3 separate regions of the Homo sapiens genome follow, and all the other regions are linked to region 3. The links come from fine-mapping of genetic effects on gene expression. A gene starts in region 3. Each other region holds a variant in brackets. All regions are shown on one strand. Distances are from middle to middle.

Region 1 (7,746 bases), 180 kb before region 3:
TGGTTACTGAGTGTGGTATACTTGGACACCGAGCTCCCCCACCCATCAGATGTCACAAAGAGTCCTCTTACTCTTGGATAATTTCAAATCAAACTGACCTCCCCAGGTAAGCCCCTTGTCACTTTCAGAAGAATCCCTTTTAATGTGTGCTCCACTAAGATTTTAAACTCAGAAACTCAAGACTTTATTAAGTTGCTACACTTTCAAGCTCAGTAGGACATTTTGACTTGGAAGGGAAATTACTTGGTAAAATGACGAGCTATTCATTTGCCTCGGAATAGGAGGTTTCAGAGAATGTAGAATTTTCAGTTTTAAAACTGAGACAGTCTCAGCATAACTGGGTTGGTTGATCACCCTATTCTAACATCATTTATGACACCCAATTGGCCTAATGAAATTGGCACACAAAAACTAACTTGTGAAGGCAAACAACTTTCATAGAAATAATTTACTGAAACTGCAAGGGAATTCTCTGAGCCCTCACATTCGAGAGGCACAGAATCGAACAGATCATCCAAGCAGATTTCTTTAAATTGGTTGGAAGTGCACAGCTCTTGTTTCGGCATCAATAGATGTGTTCAGTTTCAACTAAGCAATTCACTAACTGCATTGATTTTTAAGGCCAAGCTGAAGGTATTGAGAAAATATCCAGATGACACAGAAACTGGAATGCTCAGAGACTGATGAACAAAGGGAGAATTTTGCTCCTGTTGCTTATTCCTGGGACACCTCTAGCTGGGAATACATATCCCAGGGCTGTTAGTAGTTTTAACCTTTCTTTGGCCACTTGATGGTCGAACCATTCTAGTACATCCCTGTGCCTAAGGGCTCTCAGAATACTCTGGGAATACAAGTTCGTGCTCAAGGTCCAACAGCTGTCAGAGCAGATGGCTGGGGATTTGTTTACTGTGGTCCTAAGTATTACCCTTTAGCTCTAAGGCACTGGGAACAATTTGACAAATTTGATTAACTGAGAACAATATGATGCTTGCCTGGAAAGCTCACTCCACACTTTCACAGAGTTCCTTATGTTCTTTTCATGGTCTGAGGATACAGGATGATATTAGCTACCACCTCAGTCCAATGAAACTATCAGAGAAAACAAAAAAGTCACCCTTGGCTACCCCTTTTGTTTTACAACTGAATGTTTGTGGTTCACATGTACAGCCAGCTGTTCTATCAGAGATGCTCAGAGCATACCTAGTCCTGCCTTTAAGAAAAAGAAATGTGACTTCATGTTCCATGGCACTCTATAGCTTATTTGTCAATTACAATCTGTGTCTGCTTTGTGAAACTAAAAATAAATAGTTAATCTGCTGGAAAATCTTATTCTACCTTCCCAACTTGCCTCTGTTTTTCGTCCTCTCAACTTCCAGTAGTTTCTTTGGTGAACATCTCACGGACGGCTTGCAAAGCATTTTGTGCTTTGAGATGGCGTGTATATCCCTGGGTCTGTGAAAGGCCACTGCTGCAGGGTGGGGAGACAATAGTCAGCTCTGGGAAGTCTGTGGGAATTCCTGAGGGAGCTGCAAGTTACTATGAATAGCCCGGCATTCGAAGAAGATTTGCAGAGGAGTCTCCTGCTGTGCCCTCTAGCTCTCTACTTGATGGAGACAAACCCAGGGCCTGAGAGGTTGGGAAGGGCTCAGGGAGGACGCCCATTAGGGGACAGGCTTTCTTGTGTCCAGATTCCACTTGGGTGACCCTGGGAAGAGAGACTGCTGGCTCTTTTCCGGAGCCACAATGCTCCATTTACAAGCTGCAATTAGTCGCAAGCAAAATTTGTGCATCCACTACTAACTGTCAGCTCAAGAGGTTGAAAGTTCAGTCCTGGGGAGGTCAGGACGTCTTCCAAGGGACGGATGACTTTGCTTACAACCTCCCCTCCCCCAGTACAGTGGGGACCCTTCTGTAGGGGAGAGAACCACATTCCATAGAGGGATGCCTGCAAAACTGAATGATCTATGCCAGACAGGCTCATGGTTCTGGGACTAGGCATAGTAGGCAGATGTACCCGTTATACAGTGACTTTTCTACAGCAGAATATTGACTTAATTTATAATAAATATAGCCATTTGAGAAGAGCAAGGCAAGTAATGCTGTAGTGCTGTTAGGATTTAGCTGCTATTTCAAAGTTCAGCCAGTTTTGCTTGCATATTCCATGTGGAATAAAAAAGCCAGAAAGTCCCAGAAAAAAAATGAACTGTTCTTTGCCAAATCAAAATGTGTAAATAGTTCTTCTGAGAGCATAACAAAGGGTCTATTTTGCTTTTAGACACCAGAGCCAGAAACAGGAAAAGGCTACAATTAACTAACTGAAGCACAATGTGAAGTTAATCAATAATGGAACGATTATGACGAAGATGCCATACATTAACTCTACCTAGACATGAGTGCTGCTTTCAGAGCATGAACATTCTTTCAAATTCCAGATACCACTTTTTCCCTTGTGAGGCTGCATTTTAATTTTCCACTGTCTCCTCTATTCTCATTTGCAATCCTCTGAATCTCACTGTAAACTGTGACTAGATTCCTCCTCCCCCATTTGTGGTGTGTGATGTTGGAATCCCTGCGTTGCTCTTCTGAGAAACAGAGAAGACTTCCATTTGGAGACTGAGCTGACAAGGATTGAATTCTTTATTTATTTTATTTTATTTATTTATTTTTTGAGATGGAGTCTCACTGTCACCCAGGCTGGAGTGCAGTGGCAATCTCTGCTCACTGCAACCTCCGCCTCCCGGGTTCAAGCAATTCTCCTGCCTCAGCCTCCTGAGTAGCTGGGACTACAGGCACATGCCGCCACACCCGGCTAATTTTTTGTATTTTAGTAGAGATGGGGTTTCACTGTGCTGCCCAGACTGGTTGCAAACTCCTGAGGTCAGGCAATCCGCCTGCCTCGACCTCCCAAAGTGCTGGGATTACAGGTGTGAGACACGGTGCCCGGCCCTTTATTTCTTTAATGGGCACACAGCAGCCACTCATTATATGATGTTGACTCCCTTAGATGAAAGTAAAATTAATCATGACATTTACATTGAGTAAAGCCTTCCAGACCTTCCCAAGTTTCTACTCAGGACACCAAACACCAAGAATGGGTCTAACCCAGAGAAAGGTCTTGAAGCTGGGCATGGTGGTGCATACCTGTAGTCCCAGTTACTGGGGAGGCTGAGGCAAGTGGACACTTGAGTCCAGAGAGGTCGAGACTACAATGAGTATGATTGTGTCACTGCACTCCAGCCTGGGCAATAGTGCAAGATCCTGTCTTCAAAAAAGGAAAAGAAAACAAACAAAAAAAAGTCTTGTAAATTTTCAATCAATACCAAAGCTGACTGCTTACCCCAGCAAGCCCATCAGTAGAAGACAAAAGATGGGCCAGGTGGGAGGCAGACTGGGCTGGCTGCTCCATCCCTGCCCCCCTTGCAGGAACTACACAGCATGAAGACAGGTGGCACGGTTTGAGACTTCTCTCCCAGGCTCCCATTTGGACCAAACTCAGATTTCCAAATGCAAGGCCTTCCATGACAGTGGATATCATGTGACAAAACCAGATACATAGCCTCCCCCGCCACAGTAGAACCTCTGCTTCTTCCGCTCCCCTTCCCCCTTGAAATCACTGAAAGCCAGGCGATGTAC[G/A]TGGCTCCCCCTCAGAGGGAGTTGCTCGGGTCTCTCTTCTAGACAGTGCTCTAAGAAACAGTCTTTCCCCTCACCCTTCCTATCACCACCCTCCCCTACCACACCCCTGCAACACCTCACCCAGAGTTAGCCACAAAAATAACTGTTCCATGGTGGGCAGAGTATGATGCCGGGTGATGAATTAACAAGAAACCTCCCATCACCTGGTGGGCAATTTTTTTCTAATTAAGTTAATTGGATTTTTTTATATTATAAAAGGAGTGCATGTTCATTATTAAAAATTTGTAAAATACAAAAAAAAAGTAGAAATTTGAGGGAAAAAAGTAAAGCCTACAGGTGGGTAATTACAGCCCCAGAATTATTAGTCATTTTGACTGGGAACCTGGTAATCCATAAATTAGGTTTTTAGAGTCAACTCCAGTTCCACTTTCTAGTTCAACTACTTGTGTCTTCCCTAAGTCAATGCTGCAGTTATTTATCACAGTTTTCTTGGAGAAGGCAAAATCCTTTCTGTCTGAATTTCAGCCCCACTTAAAATTTTAATGCAAAACTGCGTTCCTCAGAGTTACTGGAGACATAAATTCCTGGCACCCTTCCATTCCAGCCCCAGGGTTTCTCTCCCTCTAGGACTTCTCCAAGCCAGCTCCCTTGTCATCAGCTCTCATGGGAGGAGTAGAATTCTTATTTTTTCCCCCCACAATAGAACTTTTAAAAATTTCTCTGAAATATGCTGTTTGTATAGTCACATGTCTGAGTTTCTAGCAATTAATCTCTTTATTTCTGTCTCGGCAAAGCATGAATGTTTCTGCAAAAGAATGAAAGCAAAATACTGAAGCAAATATCAGGCGAGATTTTGGCTCATGCACAGAAAGTCAAATATCCATCGACCTCAGTTACCTGCAGCTCAGCGAGGAAGCCACTGATGATCAGCAAAATTCCTAAGCAGCAAAAGCAGCAGCACAAAAATTAAGATTCCATCAGCCACGCACTCTCTCACTTTGTCACTCTTCTTTGAACCCCATTCAAAAAAAAAATAATAAGCATTCTCAGTTCTCTTAGCCCTAAGGAACAGATTGCAATGTGACAATGGATTCTGGTGGGAATGATGAAGGAAATAGAAAACTTTCAAAGGTGGACACAGGAATTCAAAATATGTATGTGAGCCAGACGTGGTAGCTCGTCTTGTAATCCCAACATGTTGGGAGGCCAAGTGGGAGGATTAGAGTTTGAGATCAGGAGTTTAAGACCAGCCTGGGCAACATGGCAAAACCCTATCTCTACAAAACAAAAAATTAGCTGGGTGTGGTGGTGTGTGCCTGTAGTCCCAGCTACTCGGGAGGCTTAGGTGGAAGGATCGCTTGAACTTGGGAGATGGAGGTTGCAATGAGCCAAGATGGCACCATTGTACTCCAGCCTGGGCCTGACCCTGTCTCAAAACAACAGAAAATCAAGTGGCTTAGCTGGGTGATCCTGGCTCAAGGTCTCTTATGAGGTTGAAGTCAAGATGTTTTCTGAAGGACAATATGCTATGTGAAATAAACTAGTTACAAGCAGACAAATACTAGGCGATTCCACTTACATGAGGTACCTAGAGTAGTCAAAACCATAGAGACAGAAAGTAGAATGCTGGTTGCCAGGGACAGAGGGAAAGAGATAATGGGGAGTTATTGTTCAATGGGCATAGAGTTTCAGTATTACTAGAAGAGAGGAGTCCTGGTGATGAATGGTGATGATGGCCGCACTACACGACGAATGTATCCAATACCACTAAACCATATACTTTAAAATGGTCAAGACGGTACATTTTATGTTATGTGTACTTGCCCACAATTTTTAAAATGAGGAAAAGAAAGAGATGTCATCTGAAAGCTTGACTGAAAGATCAACTTCCAAAATGGTTCATTGACGTGGCTGTTCACCATCAATGAAGACCTCAGTTTCTCTCTGGCTATTGGCAGGAGGCTCCAGTTCCTAAGCAGGTGGGCTCTCCCTTGGCTGCTTGAATGTCCTCATGACATGGCAGCTGGCTTTCCTTAGAGCAAGAGAGCTAAGAGGGAGAGAGCCAGGAGGAGGCTGTATTGCCCCTTGATTCAATCTCCAAGCTCCTGCACCATTGCTACCCCCACTTCTATTTGTGAGACGAAAGCCGCTAAGTCCAGCCCATTCTCAAGGGAAAGAGATTAGGTTAGGCTCCATCCTTTAAAGAGAGGAGCATCGAGGCACTTGTGGACATATTTTTTAAATCTACCACACTCCCATAGAATTTATTTTTCCCAATACAGAACCCAGAGTGATCATTTATGTCAACTCTCTGCTCAGTGGCTTCTCATCTGATGCAAGTATTAATAAAAGCCAAATTCTTACCATGGGCCTCAGAACCCTGCATGCTCTAGTGCCTCTGCAAACTCTCGGACCTTACCTCCTATCCTTTTCCACTCCAGCCTCTCCAGCCTCCTCATTGCTCCTGCGTTCTGCCACTTCCTCAGGACTTTTGCATTTGCTGTTCTCTGCCTGGAATGCAGATTCTCCCAGCTGTCCAAATGGCTCATTATCTCATGTCCTTTAGGTTTTCACTCAAATGCCGCCATCTCAGTGAAGTCATCCCTGACCACTCCATATTTAAAATTGAAACTCTCCCACCTTACTTGTTGATATGGTTTGACTGTGTCCCCACCCAAATCTCATCTTGAATTGCAGCTCCCATAATTCCCTCGTGTTGTGGGAGGGACCCAGTGGGAGATAATTGAATCATGGGAGCGGTTTCCCCATACTGTTCTCATGATAGTGAATATGTCTCATGAGATCTGTTTTTTTTTTTTTTTTTTTGAGACAAAGTCTTGCTCTGTCATGCAGGCTGGAGTGCAGTGGTGCCATCTCAGCTCACTGCAACCTCCGCCTCCTGGGTTCAAGCGATTCACCTACCTCAGCCTCCCAAGTAGCTGGGATTACAGGCATGTGCCACCATGTCTGGCTGATTTTTGTATTTCTAGTAGAGACAGGGTTTCACCATTTTGGTCAGGCTGGTCTCGAACTCCTGACCTCAGGTGATCCAACCTCCTTGACCTTCCAAAGTGCTGGGATTACAGGCATGAGCCACTGCACCTGGCCAATCTGATGGTTTTATAAGGGGAAACCCCTATAGCTTATCTCTCATTCACTTCGCTTGTCTGCCACCATGTGAGATGTGCCTTTTACCTGCCGCTGTGATTGTGAGAACTCCCCAGCCACTTGAAACTGTGAGTCCATTAAATCTTTTTTTCTTATAAATTACCCAGTCTTGGATATGTCTTTATCAGCAGCGTGAAAAACGGACTAATACACTTGTACTACCTAACTCCCTCCCCTACTTTCTTTTCCTCCATAGCACTAATCCTTTCTGTCATCCTATATATTTTACCTAGTTCTATTCTTTTGTGTCTATCTCTCCCTTCTAGCACACAAGCTCCATATGGGTAAGCGTATCTGTTTTGTTCACTACTCTAAACCCAGTGTTCAAAACAGTGTCTGGGGCAAAAGAGGGACTCAGTAAATATTTCCTGAATGTTGGTAGCCAGAGGTAGAAAACACCTGAAGAATCATGCTTCCAAAATGAGAGTCCACTCTGGTCCTCAGAAGTTTATCTCAATGAGATAACCAATAAGAACTAAAAGCTGTTCCTCTAATTTGGACTACGTAACCATATTTTCATGGGCAACAAGCACCTATCTGCCATCGCTGCATCTTCTGCCAGGGCAAGTTGGATCAAGTGATGCACTGATAATGCAGAAAGCAAAAAAACATGTGCCAACTAAGGTTGGGGGTGCCCAGGTTGAATTCAGCAAGACTGGCAATGAACCACATGGTAACAAGGACATCTGCCTAGTGGAGTGAAGCAGAGTGAGTCCATGTAGGTTTTATTCTGTCTGTTGGGCAAGTTTAATGTCTCTCACAGTCTTGCCATCTTGAGTGCAGGCAATAGAACCAGCCTCTGCAGTGTGATTTGCCCTCCAGCTGCCCTCCAGGGCTTAAGCCCTGGTCCTCACTGCACAGCTTCACAAGTCAGTTGATGAAAATGCTGAGACTGCAAAAGGAAGCGTTGAAAGAATAATCTGCAAGGCACTGACGCTAATAAAA
Region 2 (7,746 bases), 57 kb before region 3:
ATTAGGACTCCATGCTTAGGACATTCTTCTAGAGGAGGTGATATGGTTTGGCTGTGCTCCCACACAAATCTTATCTTGAATTGTAGTTCCTATAATCCTCACATGTTGTGGGAGGGACCTGGTGGGAGGTAATTGAATCATTGAGGCAGTTACCCCCATGCTGCTCTTCTCATGACAGTGAGTTCTCATGAGATCTGATGGTTTTATAAGGGGGTTTCCTCCTCTTTGCTCTGCACTTCTCCTTGTTGCTGCCATGTGAAGAAGGATGTGTTTGCTTCCCCTTCTGCCATGATCGTAAGTTTCCTGAGGCCTCCACAGCCCTGCGGAAGTGTGAGTCAATTAAACCTCTTTCTTTTATAAATTACCCAGTCTTGGTGCCCTGTGTCCCAACAGCTCTAGCCATGGCTGAAAGGGGCCAAGGTACAGCTTGGGCTGTGGCTTCAGAGTGTGCAAGCCCCAAGCCTTGGCAGCTTCCATGTGATGTTGAGCCTGTGGGTGCACAGAAGTCAAAAATTGAGGTTTGGGAACCTCTGCCTACATTTCAGAGGATGCATGGAAATGCCTGGATGTCCAGGCTGACGTTTGCTACAGGGGTGGAGCCCTCATGGAGAACCTCTGCTAGGGCAGTGTGGAAGGGAAATGTGGGGTTAGAGTCCCCACACAGAGTCTCCACTGGGGCACTGCCTAGTGGAGCTGTGAGAAGAGGCCCACTATCCTCCAGATCCCGGCATGGTAGATTCACCAGCAGCTTGCAACTTCCACCTGGAAAAGCTGCAGACACTCAATGCCAGACTATGATGGAAGCTGGGAGGGGTCTGTACCCTGCAGATCCACAGGGATGGAGCTGCCCAAACTGTGGGTGCCCACCTCTTGCATCAGCATAACCTGGATGTGAGACATGAAGTCAAAGGAGATCATTTCAGAGCTTTAAGATTTGACTGTCCCACTGGATTTTTGGATTTGCTTGGGGCCTATAGCACCCTCATTTTGGCCAATTTCTGTATGGAATCAGTCAGGGTGGTGGGAGAAATTATAAAGATAAAGTTATAGGAAATAGACACAAACCTTCTTGGAATGCTGGGAGTTTTGCATAGCTTCAGTAAAAGATTTGACTGAAGGCAGCTGAATTCTCTTAAAAGCTTACATAGGAATGTAGAGGAGTTTATCTAAATAGCTTGTTTACTCATGTGGTCCTAAGACTATCCTTTGATCATCTGTGGTGCATAACTGCTCTCTACTTGGGAGGTCGGCAATGTTAATTACCCTCTAGTGGTGTTTACTCAAGACCTTTGTCATTTAATCTGTACTAAATAAATGCGAACTTCTCTGGCTAATTGAGGCCATGGCTGCTGACTCTTCACAGCACCCTCCTCAGGGTCTGTGAGTGGCCCCGTCCCCTAGCCCGCTCCTTCATTGGATATCTGTGTCTGAGTGCATTTGTTCATCAGTCACTGGGTCAGGGTCTGTGGGTAGGACTCGGCACTCCCATTTGGAACAAGCATATTTACCCAATGCCTATAGCTCCATTGTATCTAGGAAGTAACTAACTTGCTTTTGATTTTACAGGGTCATAGGTGGAAGGGACTTGCCTTGTCGCAGATGAGACTTTGGACTTGGACTTTTGGGTTAATGCTGGAATGAGTTAAGACTTTGGGGGACTGTTGGGAAGGCATGATTGTGTTTTAAAATGTGAGAACATGAGATTTAGGAGAGGCCAGAGTTGGAATGATATGGTTTGGCTGTGTTCCCATCCAAATCTCATCTTGAATTGTAGTTCCCATAATCCTTATATGTCATGGGAGTGACCTGGTGGGTGGTAATTGAATCATGGGGGCAGTTAGCCCCATGCTGCTGTTCTTATGGTATTGAGTTCTCATTAGATCCGATGGTTTTATAACATGCTTTCCCCCATTTTGCTTGGCATTTCTCCTTCTTGCCATCATGTGAAGAAGGACGTGCTTGCTCCCCCTTCTGCCATGATTGCAAGTTTCCTGAGGCCTCCCCAGCCCTATGGAACTGTGGGTCAATAAAATGTCTCTCCTTTATAAATTACCCAGTCTTGGGAAGTTCTTTATAGCAGTGTGAGAATGGACTAATATAGCAGGGGTCCCCACCCTCCAGCCCACAGACCAGTACTAACCTGTTAGGAACTGGGCCTCATAGCAGGAGGTGAGTGCTGGGGGAGCAAGCATTACCACCTGAGCTCCACCTCCTATCAGATCAGCAGTGGCAATAGATTCCCATAGGAGCTCGAACCGTATTACGGACTGCACATTCAAGGGATCTAGGTTGCATGCTCTTTATGAGACTCTAATGCCTGATAATCTCAGGTGGAACAGTTTCATCCCAAAACCATTCCCTACTCCCGTCTGTGGAAAAATTGTCTTCTATGAAACCAATCCCTGATACCAAAAAGTTGGCGACCACTGTTCTAGAGAACTAACTTAAAATCTTCATAAATAGTTTACTTAATCTCTTCTTTCCTTTTGTTTTCTTTTAAAATGTATTTGTTGAGGACCTCTATTCCATATGGCACTATGCAGGAGATATCATGGAGAAAAAAGTGGTAGCAGTATAGACAGTGATTAAACACAGACTCTGGATTTCAATGCCACTTTTATCCCCCTGTTATCTATGGGTGCATTATTTAACCCCTCTGCATCTCAATTTCCACATATATAAAATGGGCACAATAATACTACCCATCTCATAGGGTTTGTGCTGAATATCTTCTGTTTGCCTCTCCAGATTCATTCTCCACACTTCTCCATCCTGTTCTTGACCCTGGGAATTTGACCTGCTTGGGCTGCTTCAATGAATTTACTTGCTCTCTGGCTTCAATTTGGATTTGGCCATTGGGGATCCCTGGTAGGAGATCAGAGGGAGGTAGGAATAAAGAGGTTGGGTTTTTGTTGTTGTTGTTTTTAGAGACAAGTCTCCCTGTATTCCTCAGGCTGGAGTGCAGTAGCTTTTCACAAAGGCAATCATAGTGTACTATAGCCTCAAACTCCTGGGCTCAAGTGGTCCTCCTTGTTCAGCCTTGCGAGTAGCTGGGACTATAGGTGCAGCCAGTTTTGAGGTTGAGTTTTTTACCCCAGCTTCCTCCTTGTAGGGATGCTGCAGGAATGGCTGCCTTCCCGACCAGAGGTTACAACTGCTGCCACTGCAGCACTCTCTACATGACTTCCTTTTTCTGAGTTTCCATGAACATCCCCTCCCTTTACAACATGTGTTTCTAACACAAAGCTGCCTGTAAAATTGAGCTGCAGACATAAATAAGCAAGCTGGAAGCTTGCATGGGTGAATGTTAGCAGCTGTTCCAATAGGAGAAGCCTACCAGGGGGCTAGGCATGTTCAACATGGCGGCTCCATCTTCCCTTTTCCTTGCCAACCACATGAACAGTAAGGAGCAGACAATGCGGAGCTGGTAAAGTAGAGAAGCCACTTGCATAATAGAAGACTAGGGTGGGATGGCCAGCTTCCTCTTGAACTATGTAAATGTCTCACCTGGTCCAACCATTCTTTGGGCCCTGTGTAGATCAGATAGCTCCTCCCCAAGCCAGTCTTTAAAACCCCTGTGCACTTCATCATGGGACCAGAAGACCCACTTGGGTGCCCCTCTCTCTCTGCAGAAAAGAAAGCTATTTTCTTTTCTCCTTCTTTCACCTATTAAACCTCCACTCTTAAACTGACTCCTGTGTATCTATGTCCTTGATTTCCTTGGCATGAGGCAACGAACCTCGGATGCTACCCCAGACAATGACGCCACTTCACTGTGATGTCTGGCTTAAACTGGAGCTGGAGCAGCAGGGCTCCATCCACACCAAAGGCTGCATGGGTCAGTTTGAGAAACGGCTGCTGGACAACCTGATCGTCATTACCTAGGTCTTTGTGAGTATCACCTTCCTTCAGATCTTTGGCATCTTTCTGGCCTGGAACCTCCTGAGTGACATCAAAGCAGTGAAAGGCAACTGGTGAGTCTGCCATGGGCCATTGCCACATGTCCAGCTAATTGAGGCCTCTAGTGGGCACCCCCCTCCCCCATGGAGGACCTTCTCCTACTGTGTTGGTGATGGGCAAGGCTGCAGGAGGTATTTCTGCTTGGATCTGAGTCCTAAGTGGGGTTTGTATGTACAGGTGCACTGTCCACCCACAGAGAAAGCCACTGTGGCTCTGCTGGGGCTGCTTTTCCTGGAGCTGTGGGCAAGGAAGGTGTGCATGTCTACACACACACATGTACATGCATGCACAGGAGAGCCACCATCTCGGCTATTGTTAGGAC[G/A]GCAGGCTCGCCAGAGGACTAGAAAAGGCATAGCTACAAGCGTACAGGCGGTCGGGCAAGGTGGCTCATGCCTGTAATCCCAGCACTTTGGGAGGCCGAGGCAGGTGGGTCACGAGGTCAGGAGTTTGAGACCAGCCTGGCCAAGATGGTGAAATCCCATCTCTACTAAAAAAAAATACAAAAATTAGTCAGGCATGGTGGTGGACACCTGTAAGCCCAGCTACTCAGGAGGCTGAGGCAGGAGAATCTCTTGAACCCTGGAGGCAGGGGTTTCAATGAGCCGAGATCGTGCCACTGCACTCCAGCCTGGGTGACAGAACAAGACTGTCTCAAAAAAAAAAAAAAAAAAAGAAAGAGGGTACAGGCCAGGTGGGGTGGGAGGCACTGTTGTGGAGGCATCTGTCTGTGTCTCCCCTTCCCCCACTCCATGCTGAGACACACTTCTCTGTGCATGGCTGGATGGGGCATGCTTTGGGGCCTGCTGTTGCCTGGGCCACTGCTTCCTGCAGCTTCAAAACTGTCATCTTTATTAGCTATACCTTGAGCCTGCCAGGAGTCCACCTCCACCTCAGTGTATTAGACTCTGTAATTAGCCCAAGAATTTTTTCCCTCTCTCTCAGCATGCCTCTCAGGAGCAAACATGATAATGGCTAGAAACTACTCAAATAAACGAAACTTTGAAAACCAGGGAAAAAAGTAGATTGTAAAATTTCTCCAGGACCCAGTTAGATAAATGAAAAGGTGATTTTAAACAATTCCCTTGAATTGATTATGGTGCAAAGTTGAGTTTCAAGTGTCAGGGAGAAGCAATCTGATCTCCAACTTTCAACCACTAGCCATTACAGTCCCAGTGAGGTCCATCTCCTGTGCCTGTTGAAATTTATAAGAAGATGGAAGAGAGTGGGGGATAGACTCACTTTCTGAAGCTCTAGAATATATTTCTAGTAAACATATATTTTTTCTATGTCTAGTAGCTAAGTCTCTGATACATTTTCAAAAAAGGTAAAATTTGACAATATAATTATGTAATCTTTATAAAGTAATTATTTTATTTTATCTATAGAATAAATACATGTCAAAGATTTTGTGTAGCTCATTAATTAATGAGGGGACTGGGAAGGCTGTTAACACTGATTCAATGGAGAAGTCAAGATTACAAGTTTTTTCCTTTTTTTTTTTTTAAGAGAGAGAGTCTTGCTCTCTTGCCCAGGCTGGAATGCGGTGGCACAATCATAGCTCACTACAGCCTTGAACTCCTGAGTTCAAGCAAACCTAGTTAGGACTACAGGCTTGCACCACCATGCTTGGCTAGTTAAAAAAAAATTTTTTTTTTTTTTTTAAGAGACAGGAGTCTCATTAGGTTGCTCAGACCGGTCTTAAACTACTGGCCTCAAATGATCCTCCTGCCTCAGCCTCTCAAAGTGCAGGGATTACAGTAGTGAGCCACCACACCCCATTCAAAGACTACAAATTTATATAGAATAAAGGAATATTGAAATGAACTTACAAATAGAAACAAAACTGGATTTTTATATAGGAGTAGATAGGCAGAAAAGTCAATTCAGTCTCCATTTGGCAGAATTTATTTGCATGTCTATAGATGTGGTAGGCAGAATAATACCACCCTTCCCTGCCTCTCATCCCAAGAAGTCCACATCCTAATCCTCAGAACCTGTGAATTTCTTAAATTACATGACAAAGGGGAATTAAGGTTACAGATGGAATTAAGATTACTAATCATCTGACCTTATAGGGAGAGTACCCTGGGCTAGCCAAGTGGGTCCAAAATAATCACAAGTCTTTAAAAGTGGAAAAGGCTGGGCCAGGCATGGTGGCTCACCCAGCGCTATGGGAGGCTGAGGCGAGCGGATCACCTAAGGTCAGGAGTTTGAGACCAGCATGGCCAACATGGTGAAACCCCATCTCTACTAAAAATGCAAAAAAAAAAAAAAAAAAAAATTAGTTAGGCATGGTGGCACACGCCTGTATTCCCAGCTACTCAGGAAGCTGAGGCAGGAGAATCACTTGAACCTAGGATGTGGAGGTTGCAGTGAGTGGAGATCATGCCACTGCACTCCAGCCTGGGAGACAGAGTGAGACTCTGTCTTAAAAAAAAAAAAAATGGGGAAGAGGATGGCAGAAGAGAGTCAGAGGGGGTTGTGCCTATAGAGAAATGTTCAGAAAGATGAAACATTGCTGGCTTTGAAAACGGAGAAAGGAGTCCAGTAATCAAAGGTGAGCTCTAAAGTTGGAAAAGGGAAGAAAATTAATTCTCCACTGGAGCCTCTAGAAAGGAGTGGAGCCCTGCAGACCTTGATTTTATCCCAGGGAGACCTGTGTGGGACTTCTGACCTTCAGAACTATAAGATAATAAACTTGTGTTATTTTAAGTCATGAAACTTGTCATAATTTGTCACATCATCAATAGAGAGGTAATAGATAAGAAGTAGTTGCATTGCTATCATTTATTTACAATTTAAAGAGTTTAAAACATAGCCTAGTCAGAGACAAAGATACACTGATACAGCATCAGATAATACCCAGTCTTCAGCATTCCACTGAACGTGCACCTATTCTAAAGTCTTATAGTTTTTCTTACATTACCAATTTTTAAAGGTAACAATAATTTTCATTTCTTAGTTAAGACCTCATGCTCAAGCTATAACTGCAGAGCTTATGGAGCTTACTTTTCAGGCAGCAAATAAAAGTAGGAATGTATTACTAATGAAATGAATGACTTAGCACTTAGCAATTGCAAAGATACCCTATCCAACTACAGAATTATTAATCACTGATGGAAGCAGAAATGAGCAAATTGATGACTTGATGGTTCAGTAGAATCCCCCTTGAAAACAGGGGGGAGAGCCAAGTCATCAATAACTCTGGAATCAATTCTTGTTTCATCAGCCAATTTCTAGCCAAATGGAATAATGGCCTCTTGGTAGTCAATTGCTTCAGCTTCGGGGTTTGTGTTACATTTGGATTTTCTTACCTTCAATTAAAATAAGTTAGATAACACTTAGGAATTCACCCTGACCCTATGGAGGGAGTGTAGCAGAATAATTTTTTTTTTTTTTTTTTTTTTTTTTGCTGTACCTGGCGTCCATACATTGTTCTTATTATAGCAACACACAGAGTGTCAAATGAGGTTCATCCAGTTGCCAGCTGCGAATCTCTATCCGTATAGGTTTGCAGCAACCTCAATTCTTGCCACCTCAGAAGAAAGAATTCAACCGAGAGGCAAATAGCAGAAAGGAATGAAAGGAAGTAAAGTATACTTGGAGGAGGGCCAAGTGGGCAACTTGAGAGATCAAGTGCATGGTTTGACCTTTTCACCTGGGGCTTAGCATGTTGGCACACTTCTGGGATGTTGCATTACTCCTCCCCTGATTCTTCCCCTGGGGTGGGCTGTCTTGCTTGAGCCTACTCGCCCAACTCCTGAGATCTTATCAGGAAGCTGCTGA
Region 3 (7,746 bases):
CTTCCTAACCAGGAAACAGGGCAGGAATGGAATTTTCTTCCCATTCCAGTTTCTCTTTAGCTGCTTGTGTCCAGAAGTTGATATGGCATAGCTAAAATTAATACCTGAATTGACCCAGTTCACCTTCTGTTTTAGAAACAACAACAACAAAAAAATTGGCTAAAAAGTAAAGGCCTGGGTATTTTTAGAAAGAGCAATAATTAGTGTAAAATGTCACAGAAATATAATACGTTTAGATTCATGTCAGACAAAAGTTATTTCCAGGAAGCTTCTCAAAGACAAGAAAAGGGATGTTGGAGATATTGGGAAAAAGTATAGTGAAATTGGTAAGAATAAATAAGCTGCAGTGAAGCCTATCTGAAGCATTTGGAATATGACTTTGCAAGAGGCTCAGAATAGAATAGAGTAGGAATCTATCCCTGTTTATCTTTTTACCTCCCTATCCGTCTTGTATAGATATTGGAGTAAAAAGATGAGGAATGTTGCCTCTTGTTCCTCTCTCTGTGACTCACAACAGTGATGCTAAAGTGAGGAAGTGGCTTCAGACATGAACAGAGGTGGGGGATGGGAAAAACGGTCAGTATTAAGAGGCATGTGGCATGTGTGAAGATTTAGGAATTTAAAACACACACACACATGGTGGAAGCTGGTAAGCCTTGCCTTTTATACACAGTTCTGAATTTTAACTCTGAGGAGAGGAGTTTTTTGGGGTATAATTCTCTGTCGTAAGAGGCTGCCCTATGTGTTGTAGGATGTTTAGCAGCATCTCCAGCCTCAACCCACTCGATGCCAGTAGTATCCAGTTGTGACAGCTAAAAATGTCTCCAGATATTGCCAACAGTTGTCCCAGGATGAGAACCACTGCTGCAAAGGTCACACGATGTGGTTGGGCAGGGTGAGTATGGGACCTTGAGCTGGGGTAAGACCTGAGGGGCAGAGTTGTGAGAGTTATGGGGAACGTTTCCAATTTCTTCTATGGAGAAATGGGAAGAGATGGTGGATGAAGGAAATGGAGTGGCATGGTGGGAATGGAGTATGTAAATTCCTAAAAGAGAAGGAAAGAATCCTAAAGGCTGAAATAATTTTTTAAGACAGTAGATAAAAAGTCATGTAGCATTTAAGGAGACTTATTTTTTCTAGAAGGTTGATTTATATGTTTATTGAGAGGGAAGGAAAGTTAGTTAATCAGAAAAGAAGGGGGAGGTGGGGATGGTAAATGAGTTAAAAAAAAAAAAAAGTTAAATAATGAATAGGACTGGCCAGGCGTGGTGGCTCATGCCTGTAATCCCAGCACTTTGGGAGGCCGAGGCAGGCGGATCACAAGGTCAGGAGTTCGAGACCAGTGTGTCCAATATGGTGAAACCCCATCTCTATTAAAAATACAAAAATTAGCCTGGCATGGTAGCGGGAGCCTGTAGTCCCAGCTACTCGGGAGGCTGAGGCAGGAGAATCACTTGAACCCAGGAAGCAGAGGTTACAATGAGCCGAGATCGCACGACTGCACTCCAGCCTGAGCAACAGAGCAAGACACACACACACACAAAAAAAAACACAAAACACAAAAAACGAATAGGACCTACTATTTGATAGCACAACGGGGTGATCATGGTCAATAGTAACTTAATTGTATGTTTTAAAATAACTTAAAGAGTGTAATTGGATTGTTTGTAACTCAAAGGATAAATGGTTAAGGGAATGGATACCCCATTTACCCTGATGTGCTTATTTCACATTACATGCCTGTATCAAAACATCTCGTGTACCCCATAAATATATACACCTACTATATATCCACGGGAATTAAAAATTGAAAAAAAGAAGTGGAAATAGATTGAAAGCTCTCCCTGTAGAGTAGAAGTTGGATAGATTTTGCAGAAATAACCTTAATCCCTTATTCCTCTCAGTGAAGGAGCCTATGAAATAAAGGAGAATTAAACATGTAGTTCTTATAATTTTCATTCCTTCATTCACTTATCTATATCCTATGTCCCATGTACTATATTATACACTAGACAGTAAGGATAGAAAGATGGATAAGAAACAATCCCTGTCTAAAGATGTCCACAGTATACTAGGGTAGACAAAGATGTGTAATCAGTTTGATTGAGAATCTCACCTCAAGAGGCATAAGCTTGAAAGTCTCATCATTTCTACACTTGGTATTTTGTCAGATTTCATTGCTTCAAAGTATCAGCCTCCTTAGTTATTAAAACTTTCATTCTAGGTATTAAGATTAGGTCCTACTGATTTAAAATATTAGTCTCATATTTATTTCAAAAACTTCCTCCATGCCTTCCAGAGCAGACTAGACCCGTAGTTCCAACTTTCTTTATACACACCCCTTTTTTTCCATGTGCCTGCTCTTCCGATGGTGGGGTCAGGAGGTTTAAGAAGGAAAACAGGCAATGCCTTAAATGTCTGACTGCCGCCATGTTGCTATCTGCTTTCTGTAGGTCATTGTTAGAATATATGGGGTTCCTAACAGCCCCACTGATAACTCAGTATCAAGCAGTCCTCTATGCTTTGATAGCCCTTTGCAAGACTTCTGCATCTGTCAGCTGACTTCCATTTGGCAGTGGTGAAACACATTCTTCTGATACATAGAAATCCCTTGTCCCATGTTATGTTCCATGGCAAGTGTGTGGGCCTCAATCTCCTGTGCTCTCTGTGATCCCAGCTCTGGGGCCTGTAGATTCCGACAGGATCCATAGTCCAGATATCACCGGATTTCTCTGTAGTCCCTACCAACTCTCCCCAGTCCTCCAAAATTCCTGGAAATTCATAGCGTAAGGGGAGTCAGCAAGCTTTGTGGCAAAGGAAACATCCAGATGGGGACTGGAGATATCAGCCTCCTCTTGAAGACACCCCAAAACTTTACTAGTATCATGTAATAGGTACTAATGTCCTGAACAGAACATGAAAGACACTAACCATTAATGAAACAAATGGACAATTTGGATAAATTCATAATTTATTTACTTATTTTTCTTTCTTTTTGAGACAGGGTCTTATTCTGTCTCCCAGCTGGGCTGGAGTGCAGTGGGGTGATCACTGCAGCCTCAACTTTCAGGGCTCAGGTGATTTTCCCTCCAAGACTCCTAGGCTCAAGTGATTTTCCCTCCCAGTCTCCTGAGTAGCTGGGTCTACAGGTGTGCACCATACCCCGCTAATTTTTGTATTTTATTTATTTATTTATTTTTTGAGACAGAGTCTTGCTCTGTTGCCCAGGCTAGAATGCAGTGGCGCGATCTCGGCTCACTGCAAGCTCCGCCTCCCGGGTTCACGCCATTCTCTTGCCTCAGCCTCCAGAGTAGCTGGGTCTACAGGCGCCCGCCACGATGCCCGGCTAATTTTTTTAATTGTTGGTAGAGACGGGGTTTCACCGTGTTAGCCGGGATGGTCTCAATCTCTTGACCTCGTGATCCGCCTGCCTGCGCCTCCCAAAGTGCTGGGATTACAGGCGTGAGCCACTGCGCCCGGCCTAATCTTTGTATTTTTTTAGAGACAAAGTTTCACCATGCCGCCCAGGCTGGTCTCTAACTGTATTTTAAAAATACAGGCGGCCGGGCGCAGTGGCTCACGCTTGTAATCCCGGAACTTTAGGAGGCTGAGGCGGGCCGATCATGAGGTCAGCAGATCGAGACCATCTGGCTAACACGGTGAAACCCTGTCTCTACTAAAAATACAAAAAAAATTAGCCAGGCGTGGTGGCGGGCGCCTGTAGTCCCAGCCACTTGGGAGGCTGAGGCAGGAGAATGGCGTGAACGTGGGAGGCAGAGCTTGCAGTGAACCGAGATCGCGCCACTGTACTCCAGCCTGGCCGACAGAGCGAGACTCCGTCTTAAAATAAAAAATAAAAAAATAAGAAATACAGGCAGGGCGCGTGGGCTCATGCTTGTAATCCCAGCACTTTGGGAGGCTGAGGCGGACAGGCTGCTTGAGCTCAAGAGTTCCAGACTAGCATCGGCAAAGCAGGGAGACCCCATCTTTACAAAAAAAGTAGCCTGGCATGGTGTTGTGAGCCCATAGTCCCAGCTAAGTAGGGCAGAGGTAGGAGAATCACTTGAGCCCAGGAGTTCCAGGCTGCAGTGAGCCGTGGTCGTGCCACTGGACTCCAGCCTGGGTGAAAGAGCAAGACCCTGTCTCAAAAAGAGAAAGGAAAAAATTTAACATCAAGAACTTCCTTTCATCAAGACACCACTGAGAGAATACGACAACCCACAGAGTAGGAAAAGAGATTTGTAATACACATCTGTAACAATGGACTTCCTCCTAGAATAGAGAGGATAAAAAGTAGCAACACTTCCGCTTGCACCCGGACGGAACTTCCTGTCACGGAAAAGAACATCCTGTCACGGAGAAGAACATCCTGCAGAATTTCCTGTCACGAGGAACATTCCGCAGGAGGAAATGGAGGCTGAAAGGCTGCGACTCCTCGAGGAAGAGGCCAAGCTGAAAAAGGTAGCCAGAATGGGATTTAATGCATCTTCCATGCTCCGAAAAAGCCAGCTAGGTTTCCTCAACGTCACCAGTTACTCCCGTTTAGCCAACGAGCTGCGTGTGAGCTGCATGGAGCGGAAAAAGGTCCAAATTCGGAGCTTGGATCCCTCCTCTTTGGCGAGCGACCGATTTAACTTCATTCTGGCGAGTACCAACAGCGACCAGCTCTTCGTAGTGAACCAGGTCGAAGTCGAAGGCTCCAAGTACGGCATCATCAGCCTGCGAACTCTGAAGATCCCTTCGTTCCACGTGTACGTGCTCAGAAACCTCTACGTCCCCAACCGGAAGGTGAAGTCCCTGTGCTGGGCCTCGCTGAACCAGTTGGACTCTCACGTTCTGCTGTGCTTCGAGGGAATCACAGATGCTCCAAGCTGTGCAGTGCTGCTCCCAGCGTCGCGGTTCTTAAGTGTTCACACAAGAGTTAACCAGCCTGGCATGCTCTGCAGTTTCCAGATCCCAGAGGCCTGGTCCTGTGCGTGGTCCCTCAACACCCGGGCATATCACTGCTTTAGTGCAGGCTTGTCTCAGCAGGTCCTGTTGACCAGCGTGGCGACGGGACACCAGCAGTCATTTGATACCAGCAGTGATGTCTTGGCCCAGCAGTTTGCTAGTACGGCTCCTTTGCTGTTTAATGGCTGTCGCTCCGGGGAGATCTTTGCCATTGATCTGCGTTGTAGAAATCGAGGCAAGGGGTGGAGGGCCACTCGCCTGTTCCATGACTCAGCAGTGACCTCTGTGCAAATCCTCCAAGAAGAGCAATGCCTGATGGCATCAGACATGACTGGAAAGATCAAGCTGTGGGATCTGAGGGCCACTAAATGTGTAAGGCAGTACGAAGGTCACGTGAATGAGTCCGCCTATCTGCCCCTGCATGTGCACGAGGAAGAGGGAATCGTGGTGGCAGTGGGCCAGGACTGCTACACGAGAATCTGGAGCCTCCATGATGCCCACCTGCTCAGAACCATCCCTTCCCCGTACTCTGCCTCCGAGGACGACATTCCCAGCGTGGCCTTCGCTTCTCGGCTCGGGGGCATCCGGGGAGCAGCACCAGGGCTGCTCATGGCTGTCCGGCAGGACCTTTATTGTTTCCCCTTCAGCTAATTCTGCAGGTGGCAGCGCGGCCGAATGTGGATTTGACTTAAGGAAGTTAAGAGTATCTTATTACCGTTTCTGTGAGAGCATTTTAAGAGACGTGTTGTATATAGATCGCATCCATCCGGCTGCCAGGGGTAAGGTGTTAAGAGTTTTATGTGGAGACGTTCTTGTAAAGTTATTTCAGTTAAACTGTGGACTTAACTTGAAAGTCCTTTTCATAAAAGGTACCTGTTTCCTCTTGTTGAATGCCTTAGAACAGTTAACCACCTCCCCAACCCTTTTTTTTTTTAAATAATTAAGACTTTTCTAAGGACTGAAGATTGGCAAAAACTAAAATAAATTAAAGCAGCTTCTTTCACTAGTAGCCCTTTAGAGAAGCATAATGATGGTACTGGTAAGACTGTTTGACTAATCATACAGGGTCCCAGGCATCTGCGCTTGAGGAAGCCAGTGGGAGTGGAGACAAGGGAGAGGTAATTTCTCAGAGTCTCTACAGAAATATTTAAGGCTGGAGTTTGGAATCATTAAATTTGGCCTTCTCAAACTCAATAGCAGATCTCTTAAGGTTCTCCTTTTATTGTTATCATCCATAGGCATTGGAAGGAAAGATGGATCTTTTTAAATACTAGAAGTTTTAAACAGTCCTTGATGTGCTTTTGTTGAGGTACCTTTCAGAATGTAAGGTACAGCAGCTCCGGTTTCTATTATGGTGACTTGAAGTTCAGATTCAAGGAATTGGCTTTGACTTTTTGTAATCTAGGAGCAGCAGTTTGTGAGAGATTTATTAAAAATGTTAAAGAGCCTGTTTTTCTACTAAGCAAGGAAGAAAAAAAACGTGTAATAAGGTTAGTTGCTACTTCTTAATAGCCAAAGCCTGGAAATGATCTGAATTTCGAAAATGCTAAAATTCGTGATATAATCATACAATCGGATACTGCATAATAATAGAAAATAAGGCACACTTGCTATGTGAAACAGTATGGACCAATCTCAACATGTTGACTGAAATTAGGTAGAAATGAGTACAAACTGTATGATTCAATTCTAAAGTTCAAAAGCAGTAAAAACTTGTCTATGGTGATTAAAGGTAGAGTAGTACGTACCTCTGTAGAAAGAAAGGATTTTTTTTTCTTTTTCTTTTTAGGATGTTTGAGAAGTGACATGGGGAAGCTTTAGGAATGCTGAGTTTTCTTTATCTTGACACTTGATACATACGTAATTCATATATCTATATGCTTCACGTTTTTATAGTTTACTGTATATATGTTATTCCTCAAAAAATAAAAATAAGCAATTAGGACACTATTGTAGTTAGGCAAGGGACAATGATGCCTTGGACCTGCATGTGTGAGAAGTAGAAATGATCAGAAATGATTGCATTGGAAGATCATTCGAAGGTAGTATTATTGATAAGGCTTGCTGATGAGAGTAAACTAGAAAGTGAAAGAAAAAAGGATGGCAGCTTTTTTTTTTTTTTTTTTGAGACGGAGTCTCCTTCTGTCGCCCAGGCTGGAGTGCAGTGGCGCGATCTCGGCTCACTGCAAGCTCTGAGGATGGCAGCTTTTTTGTTAACTTTAGAACTGGTAGATGATGGTGTCGTTTACTAACCTGGGGAGGATGAGGAGAAAAAACTTTAGGTGAAGGGAATGATGCTGAGTTTTAGACATCTACTAAACCTCCAATTGGAGATACAAAGTATTCTGCAGATCAGGGGTCATGTCATGGCTGGTAATACAAATTTGGTGACTTCAATACATAGAATTAAAATAGATGGGATAGATGTGCTTTATATGACATAGATGAGGTTAATGTAATTACATATTGATAGAAGATGAGTAGATCAATAGAGAAGATATGGGAGTATGGTTAGGCACAGATTTTTGGAATCCTTTCAGTCAGTTTTTTATACTAACTTGATATGTGACATGAGAAATTGTGTAAGCTTTACTTGCTGTTGTTTCTTCAGTGTAAAATGTCTTAGATAATAAAACTAAATGATAAAGTAGATACAGGGTTAAAGGATATGTATCTTGTCCCTTTTACATTGTAAGCATTCAAAATAAAACAAAACAATTAATGAAGAAAAGACATTGCAATCATTCAGTAAGAACTAGCTGCAGACATATATATGTATATATATATATGTCTGAT

Alleles and levels. Positions count from the first base shown, and alleles are read on the strand shown. Sizes are in standard deviations (SD) of each study's normalised expression. Not every link is listed here.
In carriers of allele A in region 1, the expression in monocytes after triphosphate RNA of the gene that starts at base 4,374 in region 3 tends to be higher than with G alone (large effect, 1.1 SD a copy in Kim-Hellmuth 2017).

The links.
Region 1: its variant is fine-mapped to the expression of DCAF4L1 in monocytes after triphosphate RNA (Kim-Hellmuth 2017, PIP 0.95).
Region 2: its variant is fine-mapped to the expression of DCAF4L1 in whole blood (TOPMed, PIP above 0.99).

Annotation. Positions count from the first base shown.
Region 1 is chr4:41,795,109-41,802,854 of GRCh38, forward strand. PHOX2B-AS1 (PHOX2B antisense RNA 1) reads left to right here. Exons shown (of 4, transcript NR_187403.1): 3 at 1-106; 4 at 622-1,329. Among named protein-coding and RNA genes, the nearest start is that of PHOX2B, 50 kb to the left of the region's middle. RefSeq lists a silencer at 1,424-1,718. The variant G/A (reference allele first, on the strand shown) is at 3,634.
Region 2 is chr4:41,920,403-41,928,148 of GRCh38, forward strand. All of the region lies in intron 2 of LOC105374426 (a long non-coding RNA gene), which reads right to left. Among named protein-coding and RNA genes, the nearest start is that of TMEM33, 11 kb to the right of the region's middle. The variant G/A (reference allele first, on the strand shown) is at 4,283.
Region 3 is chr4:41,977,383-41,985,128 of GRCh38, forward strand. DCAF4L1 (DDB1 and CUL4 associated factor 4 like 1) reads left to right here and starts at 4,374. Exons shown (of 1, transcript NM_001029955.4): 1 at 4,374-7,746. The coding sequence starts at 4,411. The coding sequence ends at 5,601. RefSeq lists enhancers at 4,105-5,304, 4,864-5,636.